4 linked regions of the Homo sapiens genome follow. The protein of the gene in region 3 interacts with the protein of the main gene of each other region in a biochemical or structural test. Each region holds a gene or a part of one and is shown on either strand. Other genes may lie near its edges.

The links.
Region 1: the proteins of MSH5 (region 3) and MLH3 form a complex in vitro, tested with the Homo sapiens proteins (one study listed by BioGRID).
Region 2: the proteins of MSH5 (region 3) and ABL1 form a complex in vitro, tested with the Homo sapiens proteins (one study listed by BioGRID).
Region 4: the proteins of MSH5 (region 3) and MSH4 form a complex in vitro, tested with the Homo sapiens proteins (2 studies listed by BioGRID).

What each region holds. Positions count from the first base shown.
Region 1 is NC_000014.9:75,013,468-75,020,492, forward strand, and holds the end of MLH3 (DNA mismatch repair protein Mlh3), read right to left. Parts: intron 5,514-7,025; coding exon 5,362-5,513; intron 3,735-5,361; coding exon 3,615-3,734; 3' UTR 308-3,614; downstream 1-307. UniProt on the Homo sapiens protein: Probably involved in the repair of mismatches in DNA.
Region 2 is NC_000009.12:130,873,229-130,880,253, forward strand, and holds part of ABL1 (tyrosine-protein kinase ABL1), read left to right. Parts: intron 1-1,639; coding exon 1,640-1,824; intron 1,825-5,186; coding exon 5,187-5,339; intron 5,340-6,839; coding exon 6,840-6,929; intron 6,930-7,025. UniProt on the Homo sapiens protein: Non-receptor tyrosine-protein kinase that plays a role in many key processes linked to cell growth and survival such as cytoskeleton remodeling in response to extracellular stimuli, cell motility and adhesion, receptor endocytosis, autophagy, DNA damage response and apoptosis.
Region 3 is NC_000006.12:31,735,467-31,743,018, reverse strand, and holds the start of MSH5 (mutS protein homolog 5), read right to left. Parts: upstream 3,015-7,552; 5' UTR 2,957-3,014; exon of another isoform or gene 2,799-2,956; intron 2,566-2,798; 5' UTR 2,553-2,565; coding exon 2,406-2,552; intron 1,857-2,405; coding exon 1,733-1,856; intron 143-1,732; coding exon 62-142; intron 1-61. Other genes in the region: CLIC1 (chloride intracellular channel protein 1), read left to right, coding at 6,719-6,757.
Region 4 is NC_000001.11:75,904,874-75,911,898, forward strand, and holds part of MSH4 (mutS protein homolog 4), read left to right. Parts: intron 1-7,025. UniProt on the Homo sapiens protein: Involved in meiotic recombination. Required for reciprocal recombination and proper segregation of homologous chromosomes at meiosis.

The sequences.
Region 1 (7,025 bases), on a different chromosome or scaffold from region 3:
TGGCCAAATCCCACTTCTGCAGGCTGCTGCTTGAATCATCCTGGCCTGATAGATTCCCACATGCAGCACACTGCGATTCCCACACGCTTGGATCCGGTTGCCTGGACTATATCCGATGCTTCTGGGTAAGACTGAGTGCTCTGTAACTAATGGGCCTGGGGTGAAAATGATCCAAGGGTTGGAAACATCCTAAGCCATGTGATAACCTCTTTTTTTTCTTTATATCCCCCACAAGTTCTGATACAATACATTTAGAAAGGAACTCACTGAAGATTTGCTGAATGAAGAGAGGGATGGAAGGAAAAAGGAAGGAAGGAAGGGTTTATTTGATGCAGATTCTTCAGCATTTTGTTTTCACAGACTCCCTTCTTTTCCCCTCTTCTGGACCCACCTTTTTGCCATCTCACCGTTGATGAGCAGCTTCAGCTTAGAGGGTAAAGACAGGCATGATCGCGACTGGCCAGCATACTGGCCGGTTCTCTCTGTTAGCAGACTTTTGCCAAGGGTTTGGATGGAATGGGTGGCTCTTCAGGTGGAAAACAGGTCGTGGGGGTCAGGTTTTGGGTGCCTGAAACTGCTCTTCCTTCACTCCACTGTGCCATGACTGGCTCCCACCCGAAGCTTCAGCTGAGCTGGCTTGTCAGGGCTCGCTAGGAACTGCTGAGCTGCATCTGTCCTTACTTGGCGTGGCTTCCTCAGCCCCCTCCACATCTCAAGAACGTGGCCTTGGGCCCCTTTCTGCTCTGACCATTTTGCTTGCCTGGGTTTTTTCACTGTCTGCCATGCGCAGATCCCAGCTGTTCATTTGTACCTGACCTCTGACTGCTAGAACCTCTCCATTCTTACATCTCATGTAGTTCCAGGTCCCCAGCCAGGTTCTGGATGTTACCCAAGCCCCCTCCCCATTCTCCAGCTTCATTCTAGCCTACACTTTATGCTTTGCCTTAAGCTTTTCTGATACTAGCTCCTATTACCATCTCTAGTCTTAATTCTGATAGTGGGACTGCTAGCTCCTCTTCTTTCAATAATAAAGGGCTAGCTGTAACTAGCTGTGACTCTGTGATACCTAACGCCAGAAGAAGCTACTATATTCTATCATTAGTTTCCTTGTCTTTCTCAGTGACTAAAGCTAAGCCTCTTGAAGGTAGAGACAGCCATAGGAACCTTCACTTCTCAATGAAGTGTTGATGAATGTTACAGAAAAAGGAACTCTCAAGAATGGCTGCATTTTACATCTCATCTCTCAAGTTTTACTCTGAAGTTACTAAAGCCTTCAGCGACCAGAATCTAATAAAGGTGAATCACCAAGTTTATAAATGAATGAATTCCTAATAAATTAAAAATATAAGGGATAGCATATGGGTAATAATGGGAAGGACTGTGCAGTTTGAAGTCACTCAGACCTGGGTCTGAATTCTGGCTCTTACAGCTAAGCCTTCAGCAAACCAGTTAACAGCTCCGAGCTTCGAAGTTTTATTATACAAAGGTGACAACTAGGTTCCTAAGAGGAACCTTCGTTTCCCACTTTGTAAAATGGTGATAAAGCTACCACCTTACCTCATGGACTGTCAAGAAACTAAACTAAGATAAAGTATGAGAAAAATTATTTTGTAAACCTTAAAGCACAATATAGGTATTAATGATTACTATTATAAATTACATGTATCTTTGTTCTTATGGCATCTGAGTTAAAAACAACATAAAACCCTAACAGGCGATAAAGGTAATCTATTAGATATTTTTCCCTAATAGGTTGTTTTTATGCTGAGGCATGCCCCCACACTTATAAATTATGAAAACAGAATAATTATCTCTTACATTGCTTGAGTCAGGCTAGTCAGGAAGGCCGGTTACATAATTTATGGAGGACTTTTTCTAATCCTCTGCTACTCTCAAGAAAACAGTAGTTGGGATTACATATAGCAAAACCTTCTGAAATCATAAGAGGCACTGAGACACTTTTTAAAATCCCTCAAATTGGTCTGGCCTTAAAAGATTTTTACAACTCCCAGGACAGTTGGCCTCCATGCAGCCCTCAAGCAGGGAGGCGGAGGCCCTGAGGCCACACTGCCACACTGGGCCTGGAGGCAGAGCCCCTGACAGCCTGGCAAATCCTCTGAAAACTCTCTCCTTTCTAAGGTCATGTCTTCCCATCTATAAAACATCCGTTTATATGTATTTAGAAGAATAAAAGCCATTTTTTAGACAGTAGGGCCTGTTCTTCAGGATTCCAATTACGTAAATCTACAAGGATCCCCTTGAAAACAAGTGAAGGTTTTCTCTGAACCTTCTCTGGGGCAGACGCTAATGAATGCAATACTTTCATTGCTCCTGTAAGATTCACTTCAAGGCTGCTGGCAAAGGAACTTTTCTTCCATGAGCACGAATTGGTTTCCTGTATTAAAAAATGAGGAAAATCATTCAATTGATATAAAAGCCACTTTGAGCAGGCTGGTCAGGAAATACAAAAGTAGAAATTCTCATTGCATCATCTTACTAATTGTATAGCACCCCAGTTGCAATAAACATTACCAGCTGGCTTTTTGCATTTTTTTTCTACTATGCAATTTTAGTCTGTTGAGTCCTATTAACCACAAATCATGTGAAAAGGTGCGGGAAAAATAGATTGAGAATGGCATAACAAGCATTTGCAGAACGATCAGTCCTGGTCCCAAGTGATATTATAAGGGCAATAGATAGGCATAATGTAATAACACCAAGATACCGTTTGAAAGGGACCCAAAGAACCCTTGTCTCCTGAAAGAAAAAGTGTAAAGATATTTGGTTAGGTTGAACGTATGTATGCTGTGTTTTGATATGACAATTGCTTTCACATAAAGAGATACTTTATAAAGTACCAAAAAAAATCATATTTTAAAAAACAAGCTCATAGTATTTTCACCATTTTACTGGTTTGGGATATTGAACATCAGTCTCTGAGTTTTTAAAGAAAACATAACAAAAAACCCGGAACAGGACTTTAAATTTTCTCTGTTCTATCCTTGTCCTTTTTATCAATAGTTTTTATCCCTAAAATAACTAAAGGCCTGATGAAAGACCCTAGAGAATGTTTTCACTGTAGTAGAGAAACTCTTTAAGTCTGAGATGTAGCACATGAAGCAGCAGCATAGGGAAGTGAAGAAGACTGAAGGGAAAAGAGGGGACCAGTGCAGAAACCCTGGGGGCAGCCTGGGAAGGCAGACTACCCCTTGGACTTGAGCATCAGCTGAATTAGATACACGCAAATGTGAAGCTTGAAAAAAAACTGTACAAAAACAAAAATCACACCCTTCAAATAACAAACCAAGCAACCAATCAAACTGTCATTAAATTTTATCATTAAATAAGTAGCAAAAGGTAGATACTATATAGCAACCTTCTGTGCCCATGGATGCAAATGAATGAATTGTCTTTAGGCTTGAATTTCATCTGGCTACTCAACTAGGGGAATCATCTGCTCAAGAAAGACTGATACAGAGAGCCCTGCTGTCTAAGCTGCTCAGGGACACTGGGCTGATTCAGTCAGGGCCGTGCTGGTACCTGCTGCTGCTGCTCTCTGCTCAGAGGCATACAGTGAACATCCCTTTGTTCCTTTTAGACCAGTGATTCTGTTCTCATGGTGGCTCACAGGGAGGCATGGATTGCTGCAGGCTCTGCCTTGTATCACACTCTGCTTTTCCAAAGAGACGCCAGGCCTGGGCCATTTTGCGAAGTTTAGTGAGGTTGGGTTTAATCTATGGGAAGAAAGAATAACTTCAATTAGCAATATGAAAAGGTAGGTAGCATACAGGCTGGGCGAGGTGACTCACACCTGTAATCCCAGCACTCTGGGAGGCCAAGGCAGGCGGATCACAAGGTCAGGAGTTTGAGACCAGCCTGGCCAATATGGTGAAACCCTGTCTCTACTAAAAATACAAAAAAAAATTAGCCGGGTGTGGTGGCGCATGCCTATAATCCCAGCTACTCAGGAGGCTGAGGCAGGAGAATTGATTGAACCTGGGAGGCGGAGGTTGTGGTGAGCCAAGATCATGCCACTGCACTCCAGCCTGGGCGACAGAGTGAGACTCCGTCTCAAAAAAAAAAAATTGAAAATGTAGGTAGCATACAAATATTTCCAAAGTCTGGCTGTTATAATCTGTTTAGATTTCTAACTTCTGGATTCAATAGAGATTACAGATTGTTTTAAGGATCCAAGGGGACTCAGAACTTTAAGTCTAGATTCCCAGCTCTCAGCAATGGAGAAAAACTTTCTTCATATTTTTCTTTGTGAAACAAAGAGGTTTTAATGAAGTAAAATCAGCTAGTTGAGTCAGACAACATTAGTACCTGAAAACTCCATGCAAGAAAAGATTTTATATCCCTTAGCAGGGAAAGGTTAGCAAAAGAAAAGATTTTGGGCAGGGCGCAGTGGCTCATGCCTATAATCCCAGCACTTTGGGAGGCCAAGGTGGACAGTTCACCTGAGGTCGGGAGTTCGAGACCAGCCTGACCAACATGGAGAAACGCTGTCTCTACTAAAAATACAGAATTAGCCGGGCGTGGTGGCGCATGCCTGTAATCCCAGCTACTCGGGAGGCTGAGGCAGGAGAATTGCTTGAACCCGGGAGGCAGAGGTTGCGGTGAGCCAAGATCGCACCATTGCACTCCAGCCTGCGCAACAACAGCAAAACTCCGTCTCAAAAAACAAAAAAAAAGGAAAGATTTTGGAAAGCAGCAACAGGGACATTCCTGTTATGTTCTCCATGTTCTCCTTCACTGAAGATTATAACAAGGACAGAAGTTCTTCATTTAAGCCATTCTGTGCCTTTTCTGCATTATCCACATTGTAGTTTGCAGGTTGCTGGGTAATTAGGGCCAAAGCATAATGTAGAGATCCCCAAGCTTGGGTCCCTGTCTGATGATCCTCAAACCATAACTCAAGATCCTTGGGGATGGCCAGCTACAGTCACAGATCACCGTTTCCAGCAGGTACTATCAAGAAACTGGAAGTTGAGGCTCTATATTGCCAACAGTGAATTTGCTGTGCTTCTACCAACTTTCAGTAGCTTCAGAAAGAACTGCATATTATGAAACCTAGAGCCAGCAGGCAATAGATATTCAGGGTACATAAGTCTGTACATGTGTTAAGTTTTAAAATACAAAGCCATTATGTAGGTGACCTGACAGTTCAGTCTAAGTTCCATTTTGGATTTGAGCTGGAAAATGAAATGGGTGAGGCTTTATGTGAAACTTCCAGTGCAGATTTTGCAAAACTCTCCTATTTTGGAAAGGTTAAGACAGATTACAGTTGCATAGTAAAAGCCAGAAAAGAAAGAGAAAATAAACTTTGCTCCCTCCTGCTCCTGTTAGTCATTAATGTACCTGTTTTTCCTGTTCCAAGTGGTCTATGTCAGCTAACGGCAGCATAGAAGGTCTCCCGTGAGCACACTGGAATGGCAGCTGGCATGAGGACAGAGCTTCAATAAGGCGGCAACTTTCCTGTAAGCTCAGGCCATCATTAAACTTAATGGCCCCTAAATGAAAGACAGAAACAAGAAGGTTATAGTGTATATAGTGGGAAACCAATGCTGACCTTGGGTCACTGCCAAATATCTGGAAAAAGTAACATGTTTCTTAGGCTTCTTTAATGAAGCTTTAATCCTGCTTGAAATTGGTGCTTATAGGCCGGGCATGGTGTCTCACACCTGTAATCCCAGCACTTTGGGAGGCTGAGGCGGGCAGATCATGAGGTCAGGAGTTCAAGACCAGCCTGGCCAATATGGTGAAATCCCGCCTCTACTAAAAATACAAAAATTAGCCGGGTGTGGTGGCACGCGCCTATAGTCCCAGCTACTTGGGAGGCTGAGGCAGAAGAATCACTTGAACCCAGGAGGCGGGGGTTGCAGTGAGCCGAGATCACGCCACTGCACTCCAGCCTGGGCAACAAAGCGAGACTCCGTTCTCAAAAAAAAAAAAAAAAAAAAAAAAAGAGGGAAATAAATTAGTGCTTATGACCATGGATGAAACTAAGGCTTCAGGACTGACCTTCTGTCTCTCAGCTTTTTCTTACGGAGTATTTGTATTTCTAATCTCTGTAGGAGGCATTCCTTAACTTGTTAGGATCTGGCTTTCAGAGTTTTTCTCCAAGAGGCAAGAGCAGTATTTTTGCCTACTCTTTATGGGTTTGTGAAGTTGGGGTTATCTTTCTCCATGGATCGTCCAATAGCAATCTCTGATTGTTTCCTTACAATGTTCATTTTATTTGCTTCTTTTTTTCTAATTTCCATAATAATCTTCCTAATCTAAACTCTCATATTGTTATAACCTGCCTTTATGCACAATTTACCCAGTCAACAAATATTTATTAAGTATATACTTTGTATTGGGAGCTTTGTCAGGCAGTTAGTGAGACAGATAATTTCCATCCTCATGGCGCTTATGGTCTAATAGGGGAGACAAACATGAAGCAGATAATTATACAATAATTTAAATGATAAATATAGGTGCTATAAAATACAGGATATGAATATATAATAGGAAGACCAAACCCAGTTTAGGAGCTTAAGGAAGGCTTTCCTGGCAAAGTAGTATTCAAGCTGAGACTTTAGGTTAAGAAAGACGTGGCTAATTGAAGAAGGAGAGAAAAGTGTTTCAGGTAGAGGAGAAGGCCAGTGCAGAGGCCCCGACGCTGACAAATGTTTAGCACACAGGAAGCAGAAGACCAAAAAAGCAGGCTGGGATGTAAAGAACAAGGTGGAGAGTGATATGACGTGACACTGGAGAGGCAGGCAGGGGCCAAATCACGAAGACCCTTGTGGGCCACAGTAAAAAATCACATTTCTATCCCAAGAGCAATGGGTCATCATTGACACATTTTAGTTAGAAGAACAACATGCTTGGAGGGATGTTTCAAAAAGATTCCTCTGGGTGCTGAGAGAAGAGCAGCTTGAAAGGGAGCCAGAGTGGATGTGAAGAACTAAGTAAGAGAGCTCAACAGTGGCAAAAATGAGGGAGGAGCCAGACAGACTGAATCAGACGGACCGAAG
Region 2 (7,025 bases), on a different chromosome or scaffold from region 3:
CTAAATTCAGCCAGGCCTAGACTCTGGACCAGTGGAGCAGCTAATCCCCGGAGTAAGGAATATTTCATTTTTGAACCATTTTGGGCTAAGTGGAATATTAAATGAAGTTCATAAAAGGCGTCCTTCCTAATAATCACAGTCCCCTCTGAAAGAGAGTACTCATTGTTCCTCCGGGGCCAGCGCCCAGCAGTAATGGCCTCTTCCTGGGAGCCGCTGGCATTGCTTTTACGCAAACTCATGGGAACAACCAGTACATGGCTTTTGTTTTTTAGTGTGTGTGTCTTTTTTTCCTGCTTTCTCTTTATTATCTTTTCATTCTCCACTTAACTTGCTGTCCTCTGATTCAGGGATGTTTCCACAATTGTCAGAATTGTGTATGTGGAGGTCTAAATTAAGTGTCTTTGCTGTTTTAAACCCTGAAGTGTTTTGACCTTCAAATGTGCCACAATTATCTTGGTCTTCAAATTCTTTGCTGGTGGAAATGGCTTCCCAGCAAAGCGACGGCCTGTGCAGGACAGAGCCTGATGGGCTTTGCTGGCGTCTTTTATACGAGATGTTCTCCACACCACCACTGTGACCTTTCCTACCCAATTAGCTCAAGTATGAAACCTCTACATGAGATTTCATAGCAAGGAATAAGGGTAGCATGTGTGAAATGCTGGCGGCTCCTTGTAAGACAGATTTTCTATGCTCCATGAGAGCCTGATCCAGATACTCCTGGCTTTCAGGAAAGTGAATCCTCTGATGCTGCAAATTGAGATTGCTTGACTTCTGGTTTGCCTGGCACGGCCGGGTCCGTTCCTTCTTCATTCAAGCGAACTTAAAATGCTTTATCAAAATCCTCTTAGGCACAACTCTTCTGTATTTAATTTCACTCTTGTTGCTGACGATCAGGCTATCTCACGCAGCCATCACCTCAAGCTGCTGCCCCCTCTCATTCCGCTCTTCCCGTTTGCCTTGTGATTTCATGGTTAATGTTCATGAACCAAAGATTAGACTCCTACCTCCCTGGGAGAATCAGGAAGTGAGAGGAAGCAGATTATACAGGAGAGAGTTTTTTAGGATACATTTGGGTACACCTCAGGAAGAAAGAGGGAAGTAGGAAACACAGTTTGGGTAAAGAATGCCATGGGCTTTGTTTTATTTTGTCCCATCAAGTCTGAATAGGACAAGTGGAGATGCACTCTGATAGAAGTTTCTTGCAATCAAGGACTGGGCTCAGTGTTTGTCTCCGTGCCTGGCATAGAGTAGCAATAACTGCACTTACTATTCTCGACACTTCAATCAAAGCACTTAGCATATTAATTAATTACACTCACAGCAACCCTAAGAGGTAGGTGCCATTATTATCGTCTTCATTTTACGGATGAGGTAACTGAGTCCCAGGGTAATTAACTTGCTCCAGGTCATGAGGCCAGGGAGCCCGCTCCCAGCACCAGCCTCTCCCCATGTTGGGATCTCAGGGTGTGTTTGCTGAGAGGCTGGCACTGTGTTAATTGCCGTGGGCATTAATACAAACTTCCAGGGCATTGGACTCAATCTTTCCATTGTCAGCATTGCACCTTTGCTCAGCAGTGGTGGATTTGTGAAGTGGAAGGTTGGCCAGGAGCTCTCATGGGTGAACATTTTCCTTTCTTAGAGATCTTGCTGCCCGAAACTGCCTGGTAGGGGAGAACCACTTGGTGAAGGTAGCTGATTTTGGCCTGAGCAGGTTGATGACAGGGGACACCTACACAGCCCATGCTGGAGCCAAGTTCCCCATCAAATGGACTGCACCCGAGAGCCTGGCCTACAACAAGTTCTCCATCAAGTCCGACGTCTGGGGTAAGGGCTGCTGCTGCACTGAAGTGGTCCTTCCTGACTACAGGAGGGTTTTTTTCTGCCTCTTTCTTGCTCTTCCCTTTCTTTTCTTCCTTTCTTTTTGTTTTTTTGAGACGGAGTCTCACTCTGTCACCCAGGCTGGAGTGCAGTGGTGCAATCTTGGCTCATTGCAGCCTCTCCCTCCCGGGTTCAAGCGATTCTCCTGTCTCAGCATCTTGAGTAGCTGGGATTATAGGCACCCGCCACCACACCCAGCTAATTTTTGGTATTTTTAGTAGAGATGGGGTTTCACCATGTTGGCCAGGCTGGTCTAGAACTCCTGACCTCAGGTGATCTGCCTGCCTTGGCCTCCCAAAGTGCTGGGATTACAGGTGTGAGCCACTGTGCACAGCCACCCTTTTTTTTTTTTTTTTAACTGTGTATTTGGCCTGAGGTCCAAATATGGTGCACAGTGTATCTGCTGATCTGTTAAGTCTCCTCTATAAGCCCCCTCTCCATGTCTTTATTTCCCTTGCTGTTTATTGAAGAAACCATCCTTAGAGTTTCGTACGTTCTGGGTTTTGCTCATTGTCTCCCATGGTGTGATTTAATATGTTCCTCTGACTTCAGTATTCCTAGTAATGGGTGGCTGGATCTGGAACGGCCTCATCACATTCAGGTTTGACTGTTTCTCTTTTAGTAAGAGTGGATCAGGGGAGATGGTGTGCCCTTCCATCAGTAGATACAAAATGCTTCATTTATTTCCTTCCTTCCTTTCCTCCCCTCTCCCTCCCCTCCTCTCTTCTCCTTCTCCTTCCGACGGAGTTTCGCTCTTGTTGCCCAGGCTGGAGTGCAGTGGCACGATCTTGGCTCACTGCAACCTCTGCCTTCTGGTTTCAAGCGATTCTCCTGCCTCAGCCTCCTGAGTAGCTGGGATTATAGGCGCATGCCACCACCCCCGGCTAATTTTTGTATTTTTAGTAGAGACGGGGTTTTACCATGTTGGCCAGGATGGTCTCCAACTCCTGACTTCGTGATCCACCCACCTCGGCCTCCCAAAGTGCTGGGATTACAGGCGTGAGCCACCACGCCTGGCCCCAAAATGCTTGATTTGCTATCGTTTTTTTGTGGGGGTTTTTTTTTGAGTAATTTTTGGCAGTTACTGATATACAGTGCCTAGATCCAATAGTTTGCTAGGTATTGCCAGGTAGGAATTCTCTAATTCTGTCATTCCTGTTAAGTTACTAGTGGAAACTTGTATGAGGAGAAACAGTTCCTCATCTGTGTGGTTACTCAGTGGTACAGTTCATGTAGGAAGAGCAGGGTCAATTCTTGCTTCTTTGTTTTTATTTACCAGTTTTTAAAATAACAAATTACTTTTTCTTTTTTTTTTTTGGAGCCAGAGTCTTGCTTTTTCTGGGGTACAAAGTACAGGCTGGAGTTCAGTAGCATGATCTCGGCTCACTGCAACCTCCGCCTACCAGATTCAAGCAATTCTTCTGCCTCAGCCTCCCAAGTAGCTGGGATTACAGGTGCCTGCCACCACGCCTGGCTAAATTTTTTTGTATTTTTAGTAAAGATGGGGTTTCACCATGTTGCCCAGGCTGGCCTTGAACTTCTGAGCTCAGGCAGTCCACCTGCCTTGGCCTCCCAAAGTGCTGGGATTACAGGCGTGAGCCACCATGCCCTGCCACAAGTTGGTTTCTTTTTTTTTTTTTTTTTTTTTTTGAGACAGTCTCACTCTGTCGCCCAGGCTGGAGTGCAGTGGCATGATCTCAGCTCACTGCAAGCTCCGCCTTCCGGGTTCACGTCATTCTCCTGCCTCAGCCTCCCGAGTAGCTGAGACTATAGGCGCCCGCCGCCACACTCGGCCAATTTTTTTTCTATTTTTGTAGAGACGGGGTTTCACTGCGTTAGCCAGGATGGTCTCGATCTCCGGACTTCGTGATCCGCCCACCTTGGCCTCCCAAAGTGCACAAGTTAGTTTCTTAATACCCTTCAGTGGTGGCCAATTAGGTTTTTGCTGTCATTGGTGGTATTATGAACTCTCAGATTTATATATATCTGATGTGTTTCAGTCCACTGCGGTTATTTTCCCTGTTGATATTCAGATTGTCTCGTCTTTGGCCAGTGGGAACTTCACATTAGCTCCTAGTCATTTTGACATTAACTTTGTAGTTTTCCATGACGTCCGCGCCCTCAAATGACAAGCTATTGCAGGTTCATTCTGTGCCCCAGGCCTGAATCACCCATTTCTCTAAGGAATCTTATCCTTTAATGGGAAATGGAATTTTAAGGCAATAATCTCAGATTTCAAAACTTTCAAAGATTTCATAAGATTTTTATGAAATGTTTAGAGTTAGAAGGGGCTTTGGAGATAGTCTTGTGCACCCAGAAAGCAGTGGTGGCCGGTTAGGCACAGAGCTGGTTGGTCACAGAGCTAAGAGTTAACATGGCCAGCTGACTTCCGGCGCCAGGTTCCTTCTACCACATATCCCAGCAAGATGGTCACATTACCTAAAAGACCCCACAGGGTCTGAAACTCATCATCTGCCCTCCTCTAGCATGTTTGTGGGGTAAGTTTACTGAGTCTTGTTCTGTCCTGGTCTCCTTTTTTTTTTTTTATTTTTGAGACGGGGTCTTGCTCTGTCGCCCAGGCTGGCGTGCAGTGGAGCAATATCAGCTCACTACAACCTCCGTCTCCTGGGTTCAAGCAATTCTCCTGCCTCAGCCTCCAAAGTAGCCAGGACTACTGGCGTACACCACCACACCTGGCTAAATTTTTTTTTTTTTTTTGAGATGGAGTCTCGCTCTGTCACCCAGCCTGGAGTGCAGTGGCGCGATCTTGATCTTGGCTCACTGCAAGCTCCACCTCCTGGGTTCACACCATTCTCCTGCCTCAGCCTCCCGAGTAGCTGGGACTATAGGCATCTACCACCACGCCCGGCTAATTTTTTTGTATTTTTAGTAGAGACAGGGTTTCACCATGTTAGCCAGGATGGTCTCAATCTCCTGACCTCGTGATCCGCCCGCCTCGGCCTCCCAAAGTGCTGGGATTACAGGTGTGAGCCACCGTGCCCGGCCCCTAATTTTTGTATTTTTAGTAGAGATGGGGTTTCGCCATGTTGGCCAGGGTGGTCTTGAATTCCTGACCTCAAATAATCCTCCCACTTCAGCCTCCCAAAGTGCTGGGATTACAGGCGTGAGCCACCGCACCCAGCCTTGTCCTGGTCTTCTGATGATAAAGAGCCTGGTAAAATGTCAGAGCCTGGGCTGCTGCTGGGGCCATCCCTTCTGAGGTCTGCTGCAAAGGTAACTGATTTTAAATGTAGTGTAGTGAAATGCTACACATCTTGAACAGCCTTTCTCTTTCGGTTTTCTTTCAGCATTTGGAGTATTGCTTTGGGAAATTGCTACCTATGGCATGTCCCCTTACCCGGGAATTGACCTGTCCCAGGTGTATGAGCTGCTAGAGAAGGACTACCGCATGGAGCGCCCAGAAGGCTGCCCAGAGAAGGTCTATGAACTCATGCGAGCATGTAAGCCTTCCTCAGCCTGTTCTCACGAGTATATGTGGGCATTCCAGGAAATTCAACTGTGCAGGAGTGTGTACACAAAGTTGAAAGTTTTTCCATGAGCTCTCTCCATTCCAGTTCTTCAGATGCAGCTAATGTAGCCATTTGCTACCTATTGACCTTTATTTACAGATAAATAGTATGTGCGTGACTTGTCTTTTAAAGCAAAAATGGTATTGATAGATACCAAACCTGGGTGTATTCCTAAATACAGATTCCTGGGCCCTGCTTTCACAGACATTCTGCTATAGTAGCTAAGCTCATGAGGTGATTTTTTTTTTTTTTTTTTTTGAGACGGAGTTTCGCTCTTGTCGCCCAGGCTGGAGTACAATGGCGCAATGTTGGCTCACTTCAACCTCCACCTCCCTGGTTCAAGCGATTCTCCTGCCTCAGCCTCCCAAGTAGCTGGGATTACAGGCATGCACCACCACGCCCGGCTAATTTTGTATTTTTAGTAGAGATGGGGTTTCTCCATGTTAGTCAGGCTGGTCTCCAACTCCCAACCTCAGGTGATCTGCCTGCCTCGGCCTCCCAAAGTGCTGCGATTACAGGCGTGAGCCACCACGCCCAGCTGCGAGGTGATTTTTATCTGGTCGTTTTATACTGATTACATATGTGTTATCTGTACTATGCACACACAGGATGTTTTCATATATCTTATAAGGTATTTATATGGCCATTTCTTACACTGTTTTCCCACACATGTCTTTCCACGTCCATATATTCAGATCTCTCCCTCTCCCTACCTCTTATTTATGTATAGCTGCCCAGTACTCCATTTCACTCATTCATCCGGTCCTCTTTTGATGTGCATTTGGTTGTTTTACACATTTGTTTGGTTTTTGCCCTTATAAACAAAGCAGAAACAAATATTCATGTACACGAATCTCTGGGCACTTTGGCTGGTATTTCTAAAAGTTGAACTGTTGGTTCCAAGAACTGTGTGGGTTTTAAATTTTGATACATTTTACCAAACTGTTAAAAAAGGTTGTGCCATTGTATGCTCCAGTCAGACGCATATGGGAGTGACTGTTCCTGGTCCCCAGTACTAGGCTTTGTCAGTCTGTTTAGTCCTCATGTTAGTCTCATTTTCATGAGAATTTCTTTACTTCAGACTTTGATAACCGTGAAGAAAGAACAAGATAGAAGGTGAGCTGTTTGGCTTAGTAATTTTCTACACCTACTAGAGCGGGACTGGGAAAAATATATTTGTAAATGCAGTTCTTGCTGTCACTGTCTCTCTGGGGTTTTACAATCCATATTCCTGCCAGCATCTAACGTCTTTTCAAATTCTTAATGTCTATAACAGGACATGATGACATTCATCGTTTTGACTTGTTGCAGCAAAAGATGGTTAGCAGGATTGGAATGTTGCTTTCATTCTAGACTTTTCCTTGAGAACTGCTAGCCCCGTATTGCTAGCCAGATCTCATGGATGATCTGACTTGGGTTTCATCTGTCCAGGTTGGCAGTGGAATCCCTCTGACCGGCCCTCCTTTGCTGAAATCCACCAAGCCTTTGAAACAATGTTCCAGGAATCCAGTATCTCAGACGGTAAAGTACCCATCCCGGGGTACCTGCAGTGGGGTGAAAGGGCAGCCATGTGGGACTGCAGCCTGGGTCATTCGGTTCACTTCCTGGTGAAAGTTC
Region 3 (7,552 bases):
CTGGAATATTCCATATATTAGTCCTTCCCCATTTTCCCTCTATCCTTTACCAAGTCCTTACCAAGCTTTCCCAGAAATCGAGTCATATTCTCATCCTGTTTGGCACTCGTAACAACAGACTGGGGATTGATCTCATCCAGAACTTGGAAGGAGAACAGAGATCAAATGAGTTAAAGGATCTTTGTCTTTGACTAAGAGAAAACCCATAGCCCTCCTCTTCCTACCCCTCTCCTTCTCAAAAACATTTCCTCCCTAGGAGTAGGGAGTGCTCTGCACAGTGGGAACACAGGTAGAAGTTGAGATTTAGAAAAGTAGTTAAGAGTGGTGGGATGGTGAGAGGGAAGTGGGATGTTCTGGATGTTGTCACTAGGCTGTAAACCCCTGGAGAACAGACATGACTGATTTGCCCAGGGCTGAATCTGAAGCACCTGAAACATTGTAAATACGTCATATATATTTGTGGCCAGGCACAGTGGCTCATGCCTATAATCCCTGCCCTTTGGGAGGCCAAGGCAGGCAGATCACTGGAGGCCAGGAGCTCAAGACAAGCCTAGCCAACGTGGTGAAACCCTGCCTCTACTAAAAATATAAAAATTAGCCAGGCGTGATGGCAGATTCTTGTAATCCCAGCTACTCGGGAGACTGAGGCAGGAGAATTGCTTGAATCCGGGAGACGGAGGTTGCAGTGAGCCAAGATGGCACCACTACACTTCCAGCCTGAGTGACGGAGCAAGACACTGTCTCAAAAAAGAACAACCAAACAAACCAAAAAACAGCCTCACAAATATTTGTTAAATAATGAAATGAATTCATAAAAACAAAAGAGGGAGCCTCTGTGAAGCAACTGTAAAATATATTGAGTCAGTGCTATAGTTTGGATGTGATTTGTCCCTGCCAAATATCGTGTTGAAATTTAATCCCCAGTGTGATAGTGTTGTGAGGTAGGGCCTAGCAGGAGGTGTGTGGGTGATGGGAGTGGATCGCTCATGAACAGATTAATGCCCTTCCTGGAGTGTGTTGGTGGGTATGAGTGAGAGGTTCTCACTCTATTAGTTCCTGAGAGAGCTGGTTGTCAAAAAGAGCCTGGCATCTCCCTCCCCCTTGCTTCTTCTCTGCCATGTGACCTCTACACACCCTGCCTTCCCTTCTTCCATGAGTTGAAGCAGTCTGAGGCTCTCACCAGTGAAGATGCCCAATTTTGAGCTTTCCAACCATCCAGAACCATAAGCCAAATAAAACTTTTTTTTTTTTTTTAACAAATTACTCAGAGTCAGGTATTTCCTTACAGCAACACAAAATATGCTAGACAGTGAGGTGAGTTAATGTAAGTAAAACATGGCTGGGCGTGGTGACTCACACCTGTAGTCCCAGCACTTTAGGAGGCCAAGGTGGGCGGATCACAAGGTCAGGAGTTTGAGACCACCCTGGCCAACATGGTGAAACACCGTCTGTGCTAAAAACACACACAAAAAACTAGCTGGGTGTGGTGGCACACGCCTGTAGTCCCAGCTACTCGGGAGGTTGAGTCAGGAGAATTGCTTGAACCCAGGAGGTGGAGGCTGCAGTGAGCCAAGATTGCGCCACTGCACTTGAGCCTGGGTAACAGAGCAAGACTCTGTCTAGAAAAAAAAAATATGTGTGTGTGTGTGTGTGTGTGTGTGTGTGTGTGTGTGTGTGTGTGTAACACATCTGCAATCCCAGAGAGCAGAGGAATTCATGGTTCCATCCCCACCTCTCTGGAGAAGCTTGAGGCTCTCGTGGTCTGGGGCATCTGGCATGAAGTGGATAGTGGAGTCACTAGTATCATAGTAGGCAATGCCCAAGTATCCTGAATTCCACAGCACACACAGATGGATCTGTCCAGCAAGGAAGAAAGGAAATCACTATTAGAATCACTCATAAGTGTAGGGTTTACCATGTCTTATATAATTTAATCATTTTCTCAAATCTCTGAGATAGGCATCATCACCCCCATTTAGTGAATGTGAAACAGCCACTCAGGAGGTAAGAGACTTGCCCAGCTCTTCCCAACCCTGTTTTTTTTTTCTTTCTTTCTTTGAGACGGAGTCTTGCTCTGTCGCCCAGGCTGAAGTGCAGTGGAGCAATCTCAGCTCATTGCAACCTCCGCCTCCCGAGTTACAGTGATTCTCCTGCCTCAGCCTTCCCAGTAGCTGGGATAACAGGCACGTGCCACCACGCTCGGCTAATTTTTATATTTTTAGTAGAGACGGGGTTTCGCCATGTTGCCCAGGCTGGTCTCCAACTCCTGAGCTCAGGTGATCCGCCCGCCTCAGTCTCCCAAAGTGCTAAGATTACAGGTGTGAGCCACCGCGCCCGGCTCCCAACCCTCTTTTATTCTAACTTCCCATCAACTCTCCATTCAAGTTTCTACTCCCCTCAGAGACCTCGGCCAGCTCCTCCTCCTCCTCGACTTCCTCCTCCTCGGCCTCCCTGGGGCCCGGCACTGGGGCCGGGCTGGGGAAGCCGGAGGAGGCCGCCCCAGGTCTCGGTCCCTGCGGTGTCCTCCTTGGGTTCGCTCCTAAGGAGGCCATGAGCTTGGAGGCTCTGCGGATGCAAAAAGTGAGGGCGGTTCGGAAGCAACGATTCACAGAGGAGGCCGGGGTAGGGTGGCGCGCAGAATGCAAAGCACTAAGTACTTCTGCTACAGGGCTGCGGGGCAGGGCTGAGGGGCGTGGAGAGCTGTGGACACAGGAGGTGAATTCTCGGGTATTTAACTAAAGTACAGATTGTGGGAAACTCCACGCGCCCCACCCTCATTCCTGTCACGCGGAGGTTACCCTTTGGAAGGAAGGGGTCTGAGGGCCCTGTGGGGCGAGTCGTGCACGTCTTATGTCTCTGCCTCTGCCAACCACGCGCCAGGACCCCAGCCTCACGCGCTTATCTTCCTCCTCCCCCAGCTGCCGCCATCGCAGCGTTTTCCCGCCTTTTCAGTAACCTGAGTCGCTACAGGTGGGAGAACGCCCCGCTGACCGACCGCCACGAGCCTGCAAAAGGAGCGCGCCGGCGCGTGAGCGAGGTGCGCGCGCACGCGCCCCGCCCTCCTAACCGCTGTTGATTGGAGAGGCCCGGATCCAGCCTAGAGATCCGACAGGGCGAGGAGGAGAAGCGGACTGCCGTAGCTGAAGAGTCTGGACGCTGATTGGCCTATTTGCCTTCGGGGCGGGTCCAGAACGTTCAAACTTCCCGCCCTCTGCCGTTGCTTAGCAGCCGGGCCTCTAGCACTCACTGTTTCTGGGATTTGATTGGCGCAGTGGGAAGCCCGCGAGAAGGTCGGACCAGGGTCCGTAGTCCCAGTCCCTGGAAGGGGTTTGGGACCGTTGCGGGGGTTTTGAGGGGGAGGCCAAACTTAAAGAGCCAGAGGCGCTTATTTTTTTTCCTGCAACAACTCTTAAGTTAATATTTGTACCCTCTGAGTTAATATTTATACAGAGCTTAGAACAGTGCCTGGCAAACAAAGTAAGACCTAAATGAGCGGTGTTTCAAATAAATAAGCGGAAACAAGCAGGACTTCTGTCTCAGCCCTACCGTGCCTGTTTCCTGGGTACAGGGTATGACCACCCCCATAATGGCACGACAGGGCCTAATTTATTATTTAAACCCTTCAAGCAGAGGTGGAAGCATTCGAATTACATCAAATTCTGGCAGAGAGAAGTAGTTCTGATCAGAACACTCACACCCCTACTGGGACATGCCCATACCCCTTCGCACTTCTACACACCCCTGAAGACAGAGAGGTATCTATCATTCATGCATTCGGCAACTATTTAGTGCCTATTTTGGGCCAGGGGTTGGACTCAAAGCGGTGAACATAATGAAGTCACTGCTCCATAAAGCTTATTTGTGCGTCTGTGTGTGTGTGTGTGTGTGTGTGTGTGTGTGTGTGTGTTGCGGGGGTGGGGTTATGAGGGAGAAAGAAAAAAAATATATATATATATATATATAATCCCTTTAAATGCACCATCCTCCCCAGCTTTGTTCCTAGTACCCTGAGATGGGGAGATTCCTCCCCAGCCCCCCAACCCAAGAAGTTAGGAAAGATGGTGGGGGTGAGATGACCTAGCTGTGCTAACCAGTAATTGGAAAATCCCCTCCAGCAAGAAAGGTGGGGGAACAGAGTTAAGGGCTGGGTTAATGGTTACCCCTGGCAAATCTGTTGAGCAATGGAGCTATAGAAACTTGGAGGAGGTTGGTGACAGCTCTGGGGAGTGTCAGGGAGGGACCCACCTTCCAATCTGGGGTGTGAAGAGATTAGGGACTAGTTTACCAAGCCCAGGAAGGGGAGGGAGTGGAAAGAGAAGCCCAGAGAGGGAAAGAGGAGCTACTGAGATAGGAGAAATGCAGGGACAGGGAGGTGAGATGGAGGGAAACCTCTGTTGCAGGATTTGGGGGTACAGCCCTGGCTCTGCTGGATGGTTCCAGGAGAGGGCAGCGTTGCCTGTCACCTGGTAAATTAAGGCACGATACCCTGTGGGTAGTCATGCCAGCCAGCCAAAGTCAATATTGATATCAAGGCAGCTGTAGCTATAAAGCTGTAGGAGAGAAAAGAGAGGCCGGGAGAGGCTGCCAAACCTGTTTGATCTTCAAGCTGGCCCCATTTACCTAAGGCTTCTCTTGGACACAGACCAGTTGGAACAGGAGAGGACCCTGAGAAGTAGAGTTGTTTTGATCCCCTCCCCTCAATGGGAAGGGGTCCTGTGTGCAGATTTTGAGGGTCACCATGAGGGAATTCACACCCACACAGAGGCATGGAATCATACCCTTACAGGATGTTACAGTTCAAGGGAACGAACACCAAAGATAGCCTTTCTGTCGGGAGGAGAGAAAAAGGCCCTCCCACAAGCAGGAGAAAACCCACAGAAGAGGAAGCACAAGAGGAAACCACCAACTGCTGGTTTCCAGCAGCACATCACGTCACTCCACCCCACTCCTCCCCCAAGTCTCTCCCTTTCTTTAAGTTTCAAGCTCTGTTTTAGTTCTGTGTTCTTGCACTCCACCATGGTTTTCTGGAACTGTAGGTCTTTTGTTGGACAGAGGGTGATGAGGAGGATAGAGAAGGGATGGTTGGACAGGAGAGAAATTCAGGATATGGAGGCTGGAATTCTGGGTTTATTTTTTCAGCAGGTCATAAAGGTTTAATAGAAATCAAGGTTACTGGAGAGAGAGCTGCTCCTCCTATGTCCTCCCTGCTTATTTATTTAGGTGTCCCCAAGGACTCTACTCCCACTATTCTGTCTGATCTTTCTTTATCCCCATGACAGGACCAGCTAACAACACCCCTACCCCACCCCCTATACACATACTTCAGGATCGGGCCATGATAATCCCACCCCTCTGCCCCATCTCCAAGGCAACCTGTCAGTGAGACGAGGACAAAGGGCACAGGAAGGGGCCCCAATAGGAAACATAAGTGGAAGCACAAAGCTGACCAAGCTACAGGAACAGACCCCTCCCTGCAACAAAGCCCCTTGCCTCGGCTTTATGTTTCCTTCGCAAAAGACTTCGTCATCTCCCTTCCCATCCCTAACTCTACTTTCTTTTTCTTTTCTTCTTCTTCTTTTTTTTTTTTTTTTTTTGAGATGGAGTTTCGCTCTTATTGCCCAGGCTGGAGTGCAATGGCACCATCTCAGCTCACTGCAACCTTCACCTCCCGGGTTCAATTGATTCTCCTGCCTCAGCCTCCCAAGTAGCTGGGATTACAGGTGCCCACCACCCCGCCTGGCAAATTTTTGTATTTTTAGTAGAGACAGGGTTTCACCATGTTGGCCAGTCTGGTCTTGACTCCCTGACCTCAGGTGATCCACCCCCCTTGGCCTCCTAAAGTGTTGGGATTACAGGCGTGAGCCACCTCACCCGGCCCCTAACTCTATTTCCTATGCCCAATCCCAAGTGTAGGCCACAAGGACTGCAAGTCCTAGTGCTGAGCTGGGCCCGGAGACAGTAGACTGCGGGGGGCACAGGACCTACTGAGACACCAGTCTGGGCAGCTCAGGGAGTGCTGGCGTCACCCCTTCCCTAATCCCAGGCTGCATGGCTAACGGTTCCTATCTGCAGTCCCAGCCTTCCACTTCCGAGTTCTTCTCTCAGACCACAGTCCCAGCAACCCAGAATTTGGATTGGAGTCTGGAAGAAATGCAGAATGATTAAACGACCACCTTTCCATTTGAAGTCCCCATCCCTGAATCTTCACGGGTGTGCCCAAGCTGTTAGTGTCAAGTTTTTTATATGAGGGTCAGTCGGGTTGTACTCAGATTAATGAAGCAGGGAAACTGAGGCAGAAAAGAGTCCTGTGTTCAGGAGAGGTCGGAGAAACAAGGAGGTTTTCAGGACTCCTCCTTAACACCCCCATCCCCATCCTGTGGGAGATCCGAGGATTCCCCTTCCGGACTCACTCCCTACATCGTCGAGTCCCGCCCCCCTCCAGTCCCCTCCCCAGGTTCAGGGCGGGGCCGGTCGGTGAGTCAGCGGCTCTCTGATCCAGCCCGGGAGAGGACCGAGCTGGAGGAGCTGGGTGTGGGGTGCGTTGGGCTGGTGGGGAGGCCTAGTTTGGGTGCAAGTAGGTCTGATTGAGCTTGTGTTGTGCTGAAGGGACAGCCCTGGGTCTAGGGGAGAGAGTCCCTGAGTGTGAGACCCGCCTTCCCCGGTCCCAGCCCCTCCCAGTTCCCCCAGGGACGGCCACTTCCTGGTCCCCGACGCAACCATGGCTGAAGAACAACCGCAGGTCGAATTGTTCGTGAAGGTAAGAACACTTCTCTCCTCAGCCACCCAAATTCCTGGAAGCCAACTCTCACCTTTCCCCCGGTCCAGCCTTAACTCCCCAATCCCTTCCCTCCTTGACTCCCACCCCCAATCCCACGTGCACTCTTTGGTTGAGGGGTGGTTTTGAGAGGGGAAGACATTAACTTGTTAGCAAGTAATGAGAATTCTAGGATCAACCCTGAAAAGTTTGTAAAAGTGCAAGTTTCTAGCAGACTAAAGGAAGGGAAGTGGAGAAAAAGGAGAATTCCCAAAAGTGAGACTGGGGTGGGGTTAGAGGGCGAGCTGGTGAAGGGACAGTGGGGGCCCAGCAGGGTTTAGAAGGGACAGAGGGGAACCTCAGTTAGGACATGTGTCCCTACAAGATCTGAGGGTGAGTAGTGCAGTAGGAGAGGTGTGTGTGTGTGTGTGTGTGTGTGTGTGTGTGTGTGTGTGTGGATGGAGACGCTTCAGGGAAGACGGTGTGTTGAGGGAGGCCTGAGAGTGAGAGCAAGTAAATTGGGAAGCTTTGGAGGGGCGGAACAAAACAGGAGACTGGGATCGGAGTTTGAAAAGCAGAGCTGGAGAGGTGATCGGGTGGCATTGAATATCCCCAGGACTGGGGAAAGGGACAGAAGGGGAGGTGGCAAGAAGACGTGAGTTTAACGTAGCTACCACAAGGATGGGTGGGAGAGAGATCAGACGGAGGAGAAGAGCTCGGTTAGGGCATTTTGGGATTTGGGGGTTGGAGAAGTAGAAGACTTGCCCCAACTCTCTCCTCTCTCTGCGGGTGTGGGTA
Region 4 (7,025 bases), on a different chromosome or scaffold from region 3:
TGTTGGCATATAGTTGTTTACAATAGTCTCTAATGATCCTTTGTATTTCTGTGGTATCAATTGTTATGTCTCCTTTTTCATTTCTGATTTTATTTGGGTCTTCTCTCTTTTTAGTTGGTCTAGTAAAGATTTGTTTGTCTTTTGTATTTATTTTAGTTTCAACTTCATTTATTTCTGCTTTGATCTCTATTATTTCTTTTCTTCTACCAATTTTAGGTTTGGCTTGTTGTTTTTGCTTTCCTAGCTTTGAGAAGTACCACGTTAGGTTGTTGTTGTTTTTTTTTAAATGTTTCTACTTTTTTGTTGTAGGTGTTTATTGCTATAAACGTTTCTCTTAGCAATATGTTGCTGTATGTCATAGATTTTAGTATGTCATGTATTTTTTTCAAGAATTTTTAAATTTTTCTTTTTAATGTCGTTATTGACCCATTGATTGTTCAGGGGCATGTTGTTTATTTTCCATGTATTTATATATATAGTTTCCAAAAGTTCATTCTGTTATTGATTTCTAGTTTTATTCCATTGTGGAATAAAATATACTTCATAGGGTTTCGACATTTTTGAATTTATTGACACTTGTTTTGTGGCCTAATGTATTGTTTATCCTGGAGACTGTTTCATGTGATGATGAGAAGAATTTGTATTCTGCAGCAGTTGGATGAAATGTTCTGCAAATGTCAGTGAGGTCCAGGCAGTCTAGAGTGTAGTTTAACTTCAGTGTTTAATTGTTGATTTTCTGTTTGGATGATCTGGCCATTACTGAGAATGGAATGTTGAAGACCCCTACTAGTATTGTATTGCAGTCTATATTTCTCTTTATATCTATGAATTTTTGCTTTACATATTTGGATGGTCCACTGTTGGGTGAATATATATTTATAATTGTTATGTCCTCTTGCTGAATTGACCCCTTTATTATTATAGAATAACATTCTTTGTCTCTTTTTACAGTCTTTGACTTGAAGTCTATCTTATCTGATATAAACATAGCTACTCCTGCTCTTTTTTGGTTTTTATTTATCTGGAATATCTTCTTCCATCCCTTTACTTTTAGTCTAGTATGACTTTGTAGGTGAAGTGAGTTTCTAGTTAGCATCATACAGTTAGATCTTATTTTATTTCTTTTATTTTTTTTGAGGCAGAGTTTTGCTCTGTCACCCAGGCTGGAGTACAGTGGCTTGATCTCAGTTCACTGCAACCTCCACCTCCCAGGTTCAAGCGATTCTTCTGCCTCAGCCTCCCAAGTAGCTGGGATTACAGGCACCCGCCTGTACACCCAGCTAATTTTTGTATTTCTAATAGAGACAGGGTTTCACCATGTTGTCCATGCTGGTCTTGAACTCCTGTTTTTTTAAGTCTTGTTTTTTTAATCCATTTAGACACTCTTATGTCTTTTAATTGGAGAATTTAGGACATTTACATTCAATACTATTACTGATAAAGACTTACTGCTACCATTTTGTTACTTGTTATCTGGTTGTTTTGTAAGTGCTCTCTTTCTTCCTTTTTGATTAAGTAATTTTTTCTGGTAGTATGTTTTAATTCATTGCTTTATATTTTTAATATATATAATATATATACAATATTATATATATTATATATAATATATACATATTATATATTATATATATATAATATATAATATGTATATATTATATATAATATATATAATATATAATATATTATATATTATATAAATTTAAATATATATATTTTAATTTATGATTTTCATGAGGCTTATAAAATATTTTATAGCTATAACACTTTATTTTAAACAGATAACTACTTAGTTTTGACCATAGAGAGAAGAAAGTAACAAACAATGGAAAAACTGAAACACTCCGTACTTTAACTTCATTCCCCTGACATTTTGATTTTTTCTTGTCTCAATTTACACCTTCTTATATTGTCTATTTCTTTAAAGGTGTCTGTAGTTACTATTTTCATAAACGTGTCTTTTTTTTTTTCTTTTTTTTTTGAGATTGAGTCTCACTCTCTTGCCCAGGCTGCAGTGCAGTGGCGCGATCTTGGCTCACTGCAAGCTCTGCCTCCTGGGTTCGCACCATTCTCCTGCCTCAGCCTCCTGAGTAGCTGGGACTACAGGCGCCCACCACCACGCCCAGCTAATAAATGTGTCTTATAGTCTTTATGTTAGAGATATGAGTAGATTACACATCACATTTATAGTATTAGAGTATTCTGAATTTATGTACTTACATTTAAACTTCAAGTTTGTTTGTTTGTTTGTCTTTTGCATGTTAGCATTCTTTCCTTTCAGATTTAAGAGCTCCCTTTAACATTTCTTATAATATGGGTCTAGTAATGATGCATTTCCTCAGCTTTTGTTTGTCTAGAAAAGACTTTTTCTCTCCTTCATGTTTGAAGGAAAGTTTTGCTAGGTATAGTATTCTCAGTTTGCAGTTTTTTTCCCTTCAGCACTTTGAATCTGTTATTCCACTCCCTCCTGATCTATATGGTTTTTGTTGAGAAGTCTGTTGCCAGATGAATTGGAGCTGCTTTATATGTTATTTGCTTCTTTTCTCTTGCTGCTTTTAGGATTCTCTTTGTCCTTGACCTTTGAGAGTTTGATTATTATATCATTTGGCTTGTCTTATTTGGGATGAATATATTTGGTGTTCTGTGACCTCTTGTACCTAGATATTAACATATTTCTCTAGGTTTAGTAGGTTTTCCATTTTATTCCTTTAAATAGGCATTCTACTCTTTGCTCTTTCTCAATTCTCTCTTGAACACCAGTGAATCTTAGATTTGCTCTTCCACGGTGTATCTCTCTCTCTCTCTCTCTCTCTCTATACATATATATATATATATATATATATATATATGTATAAAATCTTTCAGGCTGTCTTTATTCCTTTCATTCTGTTTTTTTTTCCCTCTGACTATATCTTGGCTTACTGCAACCTCCGCTTCTTGGATTCAAGTATTTCTTGTGCCTCAGCTACCCAAGTAGCTGGAATTACAGGCATGTGCCACCGTGCCTGTCTAATTTTTTTAGTGAGACGGGGTTTCACCATGTTGGCCAGGCTGGTCTCTAACTCCTAGGCTGAAGTGATCTGCCTGCCTCAGTCTCCCAGAGTGCTGGTATTATAGGCATGAGCCACTGTGCCTGGCTAATCTCACTGATTCTTTCTTCTGCTTGATCTATTTCTTTTTTGGAGAGCCTCTGTAGTTTTTTTAAGTTCAACAAATGTATTTCTCAGTTCCAGGGTTTCAAATCTGTTTGCCATTTGATTTTTAAAAACTTTCATCTGTTTTTTTTTTTTTTTGAGACAGAGTCTGGCTCTGTCACCCAGGCTGGAGTGCAGTGGTGTGATCTCAGCTCACTGCAACCTCTGCCTCCTGGGTTCAAGAAATTCTGCTGCCTCAGCCTCCTGTGTAGCTGGGATTACAGGTGTGCACCACCATGCCTGGCTAATTTTTGTATTTTTAGTAGAAATGGAGTTTCACTGTGTTGGCCATGCTGGTCTCAAACTCCTGACCTCAAATGATCTGCCCACCTTGGCCTTCCAAAGTATTGGGATTACAGGCGTGAGCCAATGTGCCCGGCCAAACTTTAATCTCTTTATTAAATTTCTCTGATAAATTTATCAGTTGCTTTTTCTGTGCTGTTTTAGAGTTCATGAATTTTCTTAAAACTGCTATTTTGAATTCTTGATCTTAGAGCTCACGTATCACCATCTCACCACGATGTTGATCACCAGCTCCTTGCTTTGTTCATTTGGGGAGATCATAGTTTCCTGTTTGCTCTTGTTCCTTGTGGATATATATCTATGTTTTTGCAATGAAGGATCAGTTTATCTTCAGTGTCTCGCTTGTTGGACTTTCTAGGTTGTATGTTTGCTTAGAAGTTCTTTGCAATTGTCTGTGATTCCCCTTAATCCTAGATTGCTGCCTCATTTTCAGCACTAGATGGCACCTTAAGCCCAGAATTTCCTCAGCTCTGGCAAATGTTTGCAGTACTACACATCTCAGATGGTAGGGTTCTTAGAGGGGATACCTCAGCTGTGTGGAAAGGCTGGCTAGGGGTTTATACCCAGATGACCTGTGGCATCTGCTTCCTCTAGCATGGTGCTGCTGTACATCCACACTGATTTGGTGTCTCCTTCGACTGAAATGAGGAGTAGTTTTACAGGCTGGAGTTTCTAATTCCACTCCCCTTTTTGTCTCTAGCTGCCCTCAGGCGGTTTTCTCCCTCCAGGCACTAGTGGTGCTTCCTGTGGGTTTAGGCAGGAATGATTTTTCTGCAAGGGAACCCAGGATGGTGGGGAAGCTGGCTATCCACCTCAATCTCACTTTTTCCAGAGTAGAACAAATGAGATTGGGAGGAATTTTCTGTGCATGATGCCTGGCAGATTGGGGCACGGACATTGCAGATAGAGAACTTTCTTTCTTTTTATAGTCTGCTCAGAGTTTTTCACTTCTCTGTCTCCCAACTATCATTTCAGCCTCAGATTTGGCTTCTAAAATGTTGCTGGTGTTAATCTGTGCTCCAGATATTTGCTTTTGGTTCTCTGTGGGGAGAGCAAAGGCAGACTGCTTCTACTCTGCCATTTTGTTGATATCCAGAATTGTATTTTTTTTTTTTTAGTATATACTTTAAGTTCTGGGATACACGTGCAGAACGTGCAGGTTTGTTACATAGGTTTACATGTGCCATGGTGGTTTGCTGCACCCATCAACCCGTCATCTAGGTTTTAAGTCCCGCATGCATTAGATATTTGTCCTAATGCTATCCCTCCCTTTGCCTCCCACCCCCTCCCCCCGCTGACAGGCCATGGTATGTGATGAGAATTGTATTTTTTTCTTTTTATTTATTATTTAGCTTCTTTTACGATAACTCTTTTGAAACAGTTTCACTCTTCCTGTACTCTCAATCACTTCACTTTCTACAGATAATCTGCCTCCTACTTTTTAACAAATTTGAGGTCATCTTGATGAGTTCTTGAACCTCCCCTCCTTCAAAATTTTGTTTTGAATATTTCTGTTTTTCTTCCATCTCTCTTCCATCTTATCTCAGAGGAAGAGACTGACTTTCAGACAGAAGGTTAACTATTCTACCTTTTAAAAAAATCTCCACTAAGTTATTATTACTTCTCAGTTCCCTTTATTCTCTTTTGCATCTTTAATATTTTCGTCACAGGCTTTTCCTTTTTCTAAGAGTATGCTTAGATTTCTCCCCTAAAATTCTGCCTGTTTACTCTACTTTTCAAACTATTATTTCATTTTCTTTTTACTGCAAACTTATCAAAAGTAACCCATGCTTGCTTCTTTCATTTCTCATGTTTAAACTGAGTCTTATTGTCATCACTCTCCCCAAAGTTTTCTCTTAAATACCAACTAATTATAAAATCCTTTGTCCTTCTTTTCACTTCTGATCTTCCATGATCTCTCTATGGCACTTGACACTACCCTTGTTTTCTCTTTTCTTAATTCTGCCCTCTCTTGGCTATGTGGAATTATTCTCTCCTGGATATTTTCATTCTCCTACCTGTTTGATTATTTCTTCTGTCCCTTCTTCACTAGTACTTTTTCTTTTCTTTTTTTTTCTTTTTTTTGAAACAAGGTCTCACTGTGTTGCCCAGCCTGGTTTTTAACAAATTCCTGGGCTCAAGCATTCCACCCGCCTCTTCCTCCCAAAGTGCTGGGATTACAGGCATGAACCACCGCACCCAGCCATCATCATTACTTTTTCTTATTCCACTTACTAAATATAAAAGTTTCTAAGATTTTTGCCCTTGTTTCTTTTCTTTCTAAAATCTGCACTTGGTGATCTCATCTTTTCTCACAGCGTCCATCATCATTTCTGTTCAACTCTGAATCTATATATTTTTCTCCATATTTCTCCTACATATCTTAATCTATGTTTAAAAGCCAAAGTTAAATTTATCATCTTCTAAAAAAAACTCTTATCTCTTCACCTTTAAGTCTCCCAGTGACTCACCAAAGTCATATATGGATCATTCCTCTTAATCACCTGTCATTAGGACTATGCAGTAAGTTCTCTCTCTCTCTCAATCTATTTATATACACTTCTACCAGATTGTCTCCTAATGCATAGTTTTTATTATGTAGTTTGCCTACTCAGAAACTTTTAATGATTTATTACAAAGTAAAGTTGAACTCCTTTGTCTAGTGTAAAAAGTCCTCTGTAATTCTCAAAATATATTTTAGAATTACCTGCATTAGAATTGCCTGAGATACAGGGTACCATACTAGATTGTCAAGGATCTTCTGTGGCTCAGGGATTTGCCTTCTTAACCAGTTTTTACGTGATTGTAAAGCTTATTGGCTTCTGCTTCATGATTTTCCTTTGTTTTCTACACCTCCCTTACATAATATCACTCGGTTTCACGTAATCTACATTTCTGCAATTTCAATCTTGTAAATTAAATTACTTGTCATTACTACATTGAATTACTTGCCATTTCATCATATTGACCTGATTGTGTACCATGCTTTCAAATGTACCTGCTCTAACTGTTTCCTCTGTGGAATACCCCCTCTTCTAGGCTGTTTTATCTATCAGGATTAATTTCAATACTCCATCCTATTCAAGCTTTTCTTGGCCTGAGCTGGAAGTGAGTTTCCCTTCCTCTGAGTATTTTATGGCTGTTTTATGGGACTTTTCTTAATTATTATAATCAGTTGCTTACAACAAGCCTTTTGTTTTTTTAACCATTAAGACTGTAAGCTCCTTGAGTTCTGTTATCATGTGAGGTTTACATTTTTGTATCCCCCATAGATATATAAACGTAAGCTTAGAGGCCTGGAACATAGATGATAGTAGATATTCAATAACTTTCTTAAAATAATAGACTAATTGGTAATTGATCTGTGTACCAAATAGATAGATGGGTGAATATATGGTAATCTTATTCTACCTCATAAAATCTTACTCATTTTTCCTATAGTGAAAAGTAAAAAAAAATCTGGAGTTGCTTGCTATTATGAGTTGAAGGGATTATATTTCAGGGAAACTCACTAAGACTTTCCATAAAAAG